Homo sapiens: one gene and its partner. The protein of the gene in region 1 interacts with the protein of each later gene in a pairwise test. Each region holds a gene or a part of one and is shown in the gene's direction. Other genes may lie near its edges.

The links.
Region 2: the proteins of AARD (region 1) and TSGA10 interact in binary tests that used the Homo sapiens proteins (3 or more experiments, as listed by UniProt).

The regions. Positions count from the first base shown.
Region 1 is NC_000008.11:116,941,207-116,944,987, forward strand, and holds the end of AARD (alanine- and arginine-rich domain-containing protein), read left to right. Parts: intron 1-1,351; coding exon 1,352-1,495; 3' UTR 1,496-3,281; downstream 3,282-3,781.
Region 2 is NC_000002.12:99,106,443-99,109,942, reverse strand, and holds part of TSGA10 (testis-specific gene 10 protein), read left to right. Parts: intron 1-386; coding exon of another isoform or gene 387-503; coding exon 504-554; intron 555-951; coding exon 952-1,110; intron 1,111-3,500. UniProt on the Homo sapiens protein: Plays a role in spermatogenesis. When overexpressed, prevents nuclear localization of HIF1A.

The DNA.
Region 1 (3,781 bases):
AGAGTGCTGTGGATGCACAGATGAGAGGCAATTATGTCTGCCCATGCAATCAGGGAGGGCTTCTCAGAAGAGCTGGCATTTGACTGGGTTCAGCAGAGAGAGGTGGCAAAGGGCATCTTAAACAGAAATGGGGACAGAAAGAGGTGAGCTTCAGCTCAGCATTTATTTAGGGACTGGCAAGGTTTCTGACCAGCTGCAATGGGAGCTGGCATGGGAAAGAGGGCCAGGAAAGGAAGCTCAAAGTAGGGCAGGATTATAGAGCATCTGGGCCACCCTAGAGAGCTGAAGCTTCCTGCAGGCAAGGTGCAAGGGTTTTTTGTTGTGGTGGTTGTGTGGTTACTGTTAGTGCTTGTTTGCTGGATATTCATTTACTTTATTCTTTGCTAATTCTTGCTGTCAGAAAAATGATTCTAGGTGCTTCAGAATGGAGAGGAATGTCTCAGAGAAAAACTGAAAGATAATTTTATCCAGTAGCTTTATTTTGCAAATCAGATGACCATGAATATTTGCTTTTTACCAACACACTGTCCTGGTTCATCCTGGGGTGGTTTCTATTGACAAGCTGATGAAGCTTTTTTAGCAGAGAGAACAAATTCCTCGTGAACTGCATTAAACAAGCCCTAGCTGAAGAAATTTGCAAGTAGTTGATCATTAGTTTTCAGTTATAATACAAAGATTATGTTGGACTAAGCTTTCTTGGACTGCCCCCGGGTAACATGCCCTAGAGATCTTTTTTTAAACGCACGAGGACCTTCATAAACTCCCATTGAAGGATGGTATAAATCAGCCTTGATATGAAACAGATTTCACTCCAGAGTGAAAAATGTTAGATTATATAAGTACACATAACTATACATGTGTCTCTAAGGTGTCATTAAATGTTTTTGCTCAGCAGGTAGACCATTTAAAATCCTGAAAACTTGAAATGATAAGTAATCAAGTAAATAGCACAGATTCTGAATACTCAGGTGGCTGTAGGCAGTTATCCTGTGGCTCAGAAGGCGCATAAAGATAAATGATTTCATTGTGGATCACATGCTATTCCTTGAAAACAGCCTTCGGTGCATAGGTATTTTTCATATGGACAGCTTTGTGCATCAGCTACTTTTGTTTTCATTTCAAGCCATTTCAAAAACTATTTATATATCTGGATTTTACCTTGTCATATAGAAAGTCAGTTTTATAGCCAGACCAAACAGTTAAAACTGGAGAATAAGATGAGAAATACATCTTCCTTGATATCTTATTTTCTTTTCCTACAAACTTCTTATTTCTTCTGTGTAGTCAGAGAGTGGTTTCATTTGATCTGCATCTCAGGCTAATAAAATTTTTATTTTTTTCTAACTTTTAGGTGGAAATGCATTTCCAAAACCACCAGCTGGCTAGAACTTTACTGGACCTAAACATGAAAGTGCAGCAATTGAAAAAGGAGTATGAACTGGAAATTACATCAGACTCCCAAAGCCCAAAAGATGATGCTGCGAATCCGGAATAAAGAAATGCACACGCAAGGGCTGGGCGCGGTGGCTCACGCCTGTAATCCCAGCACTTTGGGAGGCCGAGGCGGGCGGATCAAGACGTCAGGAGATTGAGACCATCCTGGCTAACACTGTGAAACCCTGCCTCTACTAAAAATACAAAAAATTAGCCAGACGTGGTGGCAGGCACCTGTAGTCCCTGCTACTCAGGAGTCTGAGGCAGGAGAATGGCGTGAACCCAGGAGACAGAGCTTGCAGTGAGCCGAAATCCTGCCACTGCACTCCAGCCTGGGTGACAGAGCAAGACTCCATCTCAAAAAAAAAAAAAAAAAAAAAAGCACACGCGAAGCTCTGGATCCTAAAACTAACGCATACAACCCTGAAACAATTCTGATGAACACATTATGCTTTGCATAAGTTTTGAGGGGCAATTTATAGACCCAAAACAAATGACAGGGGAAGGTGACAGAAAAACATCTAAGAGAGGGGAGAGAAAAATGATGTATTACCAAGTTTTAAAGTTATTTATTTGTTATTTTTACTGGGACATAGAAGTAAAATATAACTATAGATAAATCTCTCTCTGTCTCTCTCACTCAAAGAATGCTTTAATGCCAACTTTCGGTATTCAACCTTGTGTCACCTGACCTTTCTGGCATTGCCTGAGCTTTCAGAGTTTGTGCTTGTTTTGTTTTACTTGATTATTCTCAGTTTGTCTGTCCAGCAGCCTGCCCTGCTTCTTGTGGAGAATTGTTTCTACTTGGATTCTAACCATGCCCTTTAGGTGGTCTGTGACTAAGGGTATTCCATCTTCCTGGATATAGTCATGCAGCTCAAGGCAGGCAGATGGGTTTGTCCTTAGGATTTTTGAATGGGCACTAAAAGAGTAGATGACTATTTCTGCCAGTAGAAGCTGTGGATCAGGGGCTTGGAAGCTGCTGGTGGTCACCATGTGAGAAAGCCCACACCCTAATGGAGGTGACTGAAACGGAACCACTAAAAGCACAAAAGGGGAGGGAGGGAGGGAGGGTGCTTCGCTTCCTTGTTCCTGGGGTCAAGCTGTATAAGACTCCAGGCCTTGCTCTTGTTTATGTACATGAAATATTCTGATATCCTTCTCATAAAATCTCTTTTTGCCTAAGTAAATTCAAGCTGGAGTTTCATGACTTGTATCTAGTGTTCATAACTAATACAGTTGTTCAGTTTTAGGAGTTAAAATGGTTCTTACTGTTGAATTGGACTATCTAACTGTACCCGAAAAGTGCTGTCTTTTTAATGCAAACAGTAAAGTTAATAAAAAATAGTTGCAGATCTAAGTGATATTTATAATGGTTATTGTCTGCAAAATACAAATTAATTTATAACAAGCTATGTAATTTTAATATTTAATAAACTATAAAAATCAGTTCTTGAAGACAAAGGAGAACAGAAGAGACACAGTCTTTCTCTTGTTAAAAGAAATACAAGGACAAGCATGGTGGATCACGCTTGTAATTCCAGCACTTTGGGAGGCTGAGGTGGGCAGATTGTTTGAGCTCAGGAGTTTGAGACCAGCCTGGTCAACATGGCAAAACCCCATCTCTACTAAAAATACAAAAATTAGCCAGGCGTGGTGGTGCTCGCCTATAGTACCAGCTACTCAGGAGGCTGAGGCATAAGAATCACTTGAACCTGGGAGATGGAGGTTGCAGTGAGCCGAGATCATGCCCCTGCACTCCAGCCTGGGTGACAGAGGGGGACTTGGCCTCGAAAAAATAAATAAATAATAAAAATAAAATAAATGCAAGTTGTTTTATGTGTGTGAGGATCTGAGAATTATCTGGACTAAGTTTAGTTTGTCCTTAACTTTTTTGTCCACAATAAGTAAATTATTCTAGCCCTTTGGTACTTAATTTCCCTCTGTATAAATGAGGAATTACCAAATTCAGCATTGGCAGATGAGCAGTTGCCAGCATCTCAATATCTGACCATTGTGTTCCTTCACACATTTTACGTATGAGCTCTTGGCCTATAAATATACGACTACTATATTAAATTTCATTTGTAAACTAGATTTCCTGTTTATTTCTTCCTTTGAATTTTATAGAAATTTTTAGGAAAGGGTTGGCATAGTTCCTTGTGATCTGTTTTTTGAAAAAGCTTCCACTTAACCTTTGGGACAATCATTCTCAAGTGCATTTTAAAGATTAACATTTATAAATTGTTGTAATTTTGTGTTTAAAAAATACTCGAGGTGATTCATTGTATGAGCTCAATTCCTTACAGAATACAGACTGCTGATGTTGGTTAATACTAATGTCATT
Region 2 (3,500 bases), on another chromosome or scaffold:
TCTGCCCGCCTCGGCCTCCCAATGTGCTGGGATTACAGGCATGAGCCACCATGCCCAGCCTAGTAGCATATGTTTTTCTAAAGCAAATCCATGCCATTTCTAGGATGTGTGCTAGGTCTGTGGACATTTCTGGCCTCTCTAAAATTTCTTTACCATTTTTTCTCCAAAATTATCTTTCAGTTAAAATATAGCATACCCAGAAATCCTGGAAAAGAAAGATATCTAACTGCTTTTTAAAAATTACTGATATATAATTTTTTAAATGTTGTATTTAAAAAATACCAAATTAAATGTTTTTAAGGATCCTGTTTGTTTTCAATTTCACTTAGAAAATGATGCTATAGTTTAGCTTGAAATAATGGTCTAATTTTTTCCTCTTTGGCAAGATAATTTTAGATACTGAAAAAGCACAAAATAAATCTCCTTCTAGACTTGATTCCTTTGTCAAGACTTTGGAAGCAGACAAAGATCACTATAAGAGTGAAGCTCAACATTTGAGAAAGATGATGCGAAGTAGGTCTAAAAGTCCAAGACGCCCATCACCAACTGCCCGGGTAGGTTTTATAAACTTACAAATATTTTGGAGTTTGTTGCCCAGACACTGGCTTTTATTCTTTGTTTTACCTAATTTGAAAATAATTTGTTTTGATTTGCTGTGAATTGCTGTTTCAAAGGGGTTGAGAGACAGAGGTCTCTTTGATGGCACAGTAGACTACTGATATTGGTTCTTTATCCTCAGCATAATTAGCACTTGGGAGGTAATCAGGCAAATGTGGAATAATTTGGAATGAAGCTGTTTTAAAAAGATGTGGTTTTTAAACTTATTTTTTATAATTTCCTTTCATTATATAGTCTTATTTTCTTAAATAGAAATTGGGCACTACCATCAGTAGCACCTTTCTATCAGTACTATATATCAAAGAAGATTTCAAATTCCTTATATAATTATAGGGTGCAAACTGTGATGTAGAACTTTTGAAGACAACAACAAGAGATCGTGAAGAACTTAAATGCATGCTGGAAAAATATGAGCGCCATTTGGCAGAAATTCAGGGTAATGTCAAGGTTCTTAAATCTGAGAGAGACAAGATCTTCCTTCTTTATGAACAGGTAAACTTACAAAAAACAAATTATATAAGTAATAACATTGAGTTCTAGAGTTATGTAATTCTTCTTTGAGTTTTATGAGACTGCTTAAACCTGCAAATCAAGTTAATCTAACATTTGGGGATTACATATGTTTTTAAGATATTCTTAATGAAATGTAGTACATTTCCAATACAGTAGGTATGTGAGTACACACGTATGTTATCCCCATAGCCAAAAATCATACACATGTATAAAAATAGTCTTATTTTTGGAATAAGATATGAAGAAACCGTTAAATGATAAGTTGTTATGAGTTCAAGGTAAAAAGATCAAATCCTGACCTTTTTACCTTGAACTTGCCACACCTTATCACATCACTTTAGGAACTTTTATATAATTTGCTTAATTTTAGAGAATAAAAGAAGTATGTAGTTTATCTCTGCTTTCTAGCTTAGAATTGCATAGCTTTTATTAATCAAATACCTTCTTTAACCCAACAAGTATTAAATCCTATAAATCACCCATATAACTTCTTTTAAAAGTATCACAATTTTTTAACAAATTATAGCTACTATACACAGGGTTCTAGGCTCACTACTCTAAGGGATAGAAAAATGATAAGATGCTGACCATGTTTTCCTATAAATTTACAGTCTAGTTAGGGAGATAAAGTATATTGTATTTATTGATTTTTATTAAGTGGTCTAGAAGATATTATAAGAAACAAAAGAAGTGGGCATTTTTAGATATGGTGATCAAGGAAATCTTTATTAAAAGATACAAAGTGTGAGCCCTGAAAAATGAATGGAGTTTCTATTACCCTGAAAGGGGCTAGAAGGAACAATCCAAACTAAAGGAATGGTATGAGGCAAAGGATAAAGGTAGGAAAATCAGCAGATAAATAAATTGGTTTAAGACTAGAATAGAGGGTATGTGTCAGTGGAGAAGGGAGAGAGCTAAGACTTGAAAGGTAAGATTGCACTAGAGCAGGAATCAATATACTTTTTCTGTAAGGCCCAGACAAAAAATATCTTCTGCTTTGCAAGCCATGTGGTCTCTGTTGTAACTAATCAGCCCTATTGTTGTAGGGTGAAAGCAGCTTTGGACAATACATAAATGAATAACTTTGGCTGTATTACAGTAAAACTTTATGGATACTGAAATTTGAATTTCACATCATTTTTACTTGTTTTAAAATACTCTTTTGATATTTTCCCCAACCATTTAAAAATGCAAAAATATTTCTCCACTTACAGACCTACAGGAGGCAGGCTAGATGTGGCCTGTGAGTTATATATAGCTTGCTGACTTCTGGACTAAATGGTACAGGCTGTTCAATGGGCCTTATATGGGGTTTATATTTTGCTTCATAAGCAACAAACAATCTTTTTTTTTTAAAGGCAGGCAAAATATGAACAAAGTATCATTTTTACAATTTTACAATTTTAACCTTATGGCAAATTTTTATTTCTCACATAATCTTTCTATACTGTCTTCTTATTTAACAATTTCTCCTTTGAGAGAATTGATGGAGGGAGAGACCATGGACTCCTCTTTAGAAGGCTGTTACACTAGTGCACATATAAGGCATTAAGGGACTAAGCAAGGGTGTTTCAATGGAGATAAATATAGGGACAGATGCAAAAGACCCTGTGAAGGAAGATTTGACATGATTTGCTTTTAGGAAGAAGGAGGGTTGCATGACAGTGACTAAAATTCTGTCTTGAATGACTCAGCAATGTGGTAATAAAATAAAAAATAGGAGAGTCATTGGTGGTTTGAGGAAAAAGATGTGAGTTTGTTTTTAGACAGAGTAAGATAATGATAGCACACTCAGGTCGTAATTGCCATCAGACTGTAAGAAATGTGGGACTGGAGTAGAGAGAGGCAAGAGTTAAATAGTTAGCTTTGGAAGTCATCTGCTTAGAGGTGAGCTTCGAGCCTTCAGAGTGGATGAAGTCTCTGAATGAGAAAACTGTACATAGAGGAGCAGAAACGTTAAGTTATAATATTCAAGATGCAGAAGGGAACCTTTGAAAGAGACAAAGATGACAGACAGCTAGGGAGGAACAATGTTAAAAGGGAGGAAGGAATCTCAAGAAGAAGGATGTTGTGAGCAGCAACAGACCACTGAAATATCAAGGAGAACAGGAACTGAGAAAAGACCATTATATTTGGTTAGGTCTTTAGTTGAAATTCCACAGAAGGTGGGAGGGTGGGAGCCAGGTTGTTCTGGGGTGATAGAATGGATGGTAAGGAACCATTGGCAATAGTTATAGACCATGGGACTTTTTTTTTTTAATGTGTCGCAGGAAGAAGAGACATAGGATGGTAAATTGGTCAGCAGGATCAAGTGACAGGTTTTCAAGATAAGGGAGCACTGTACATGACTGAAGGCAGGGGAGAAAGTG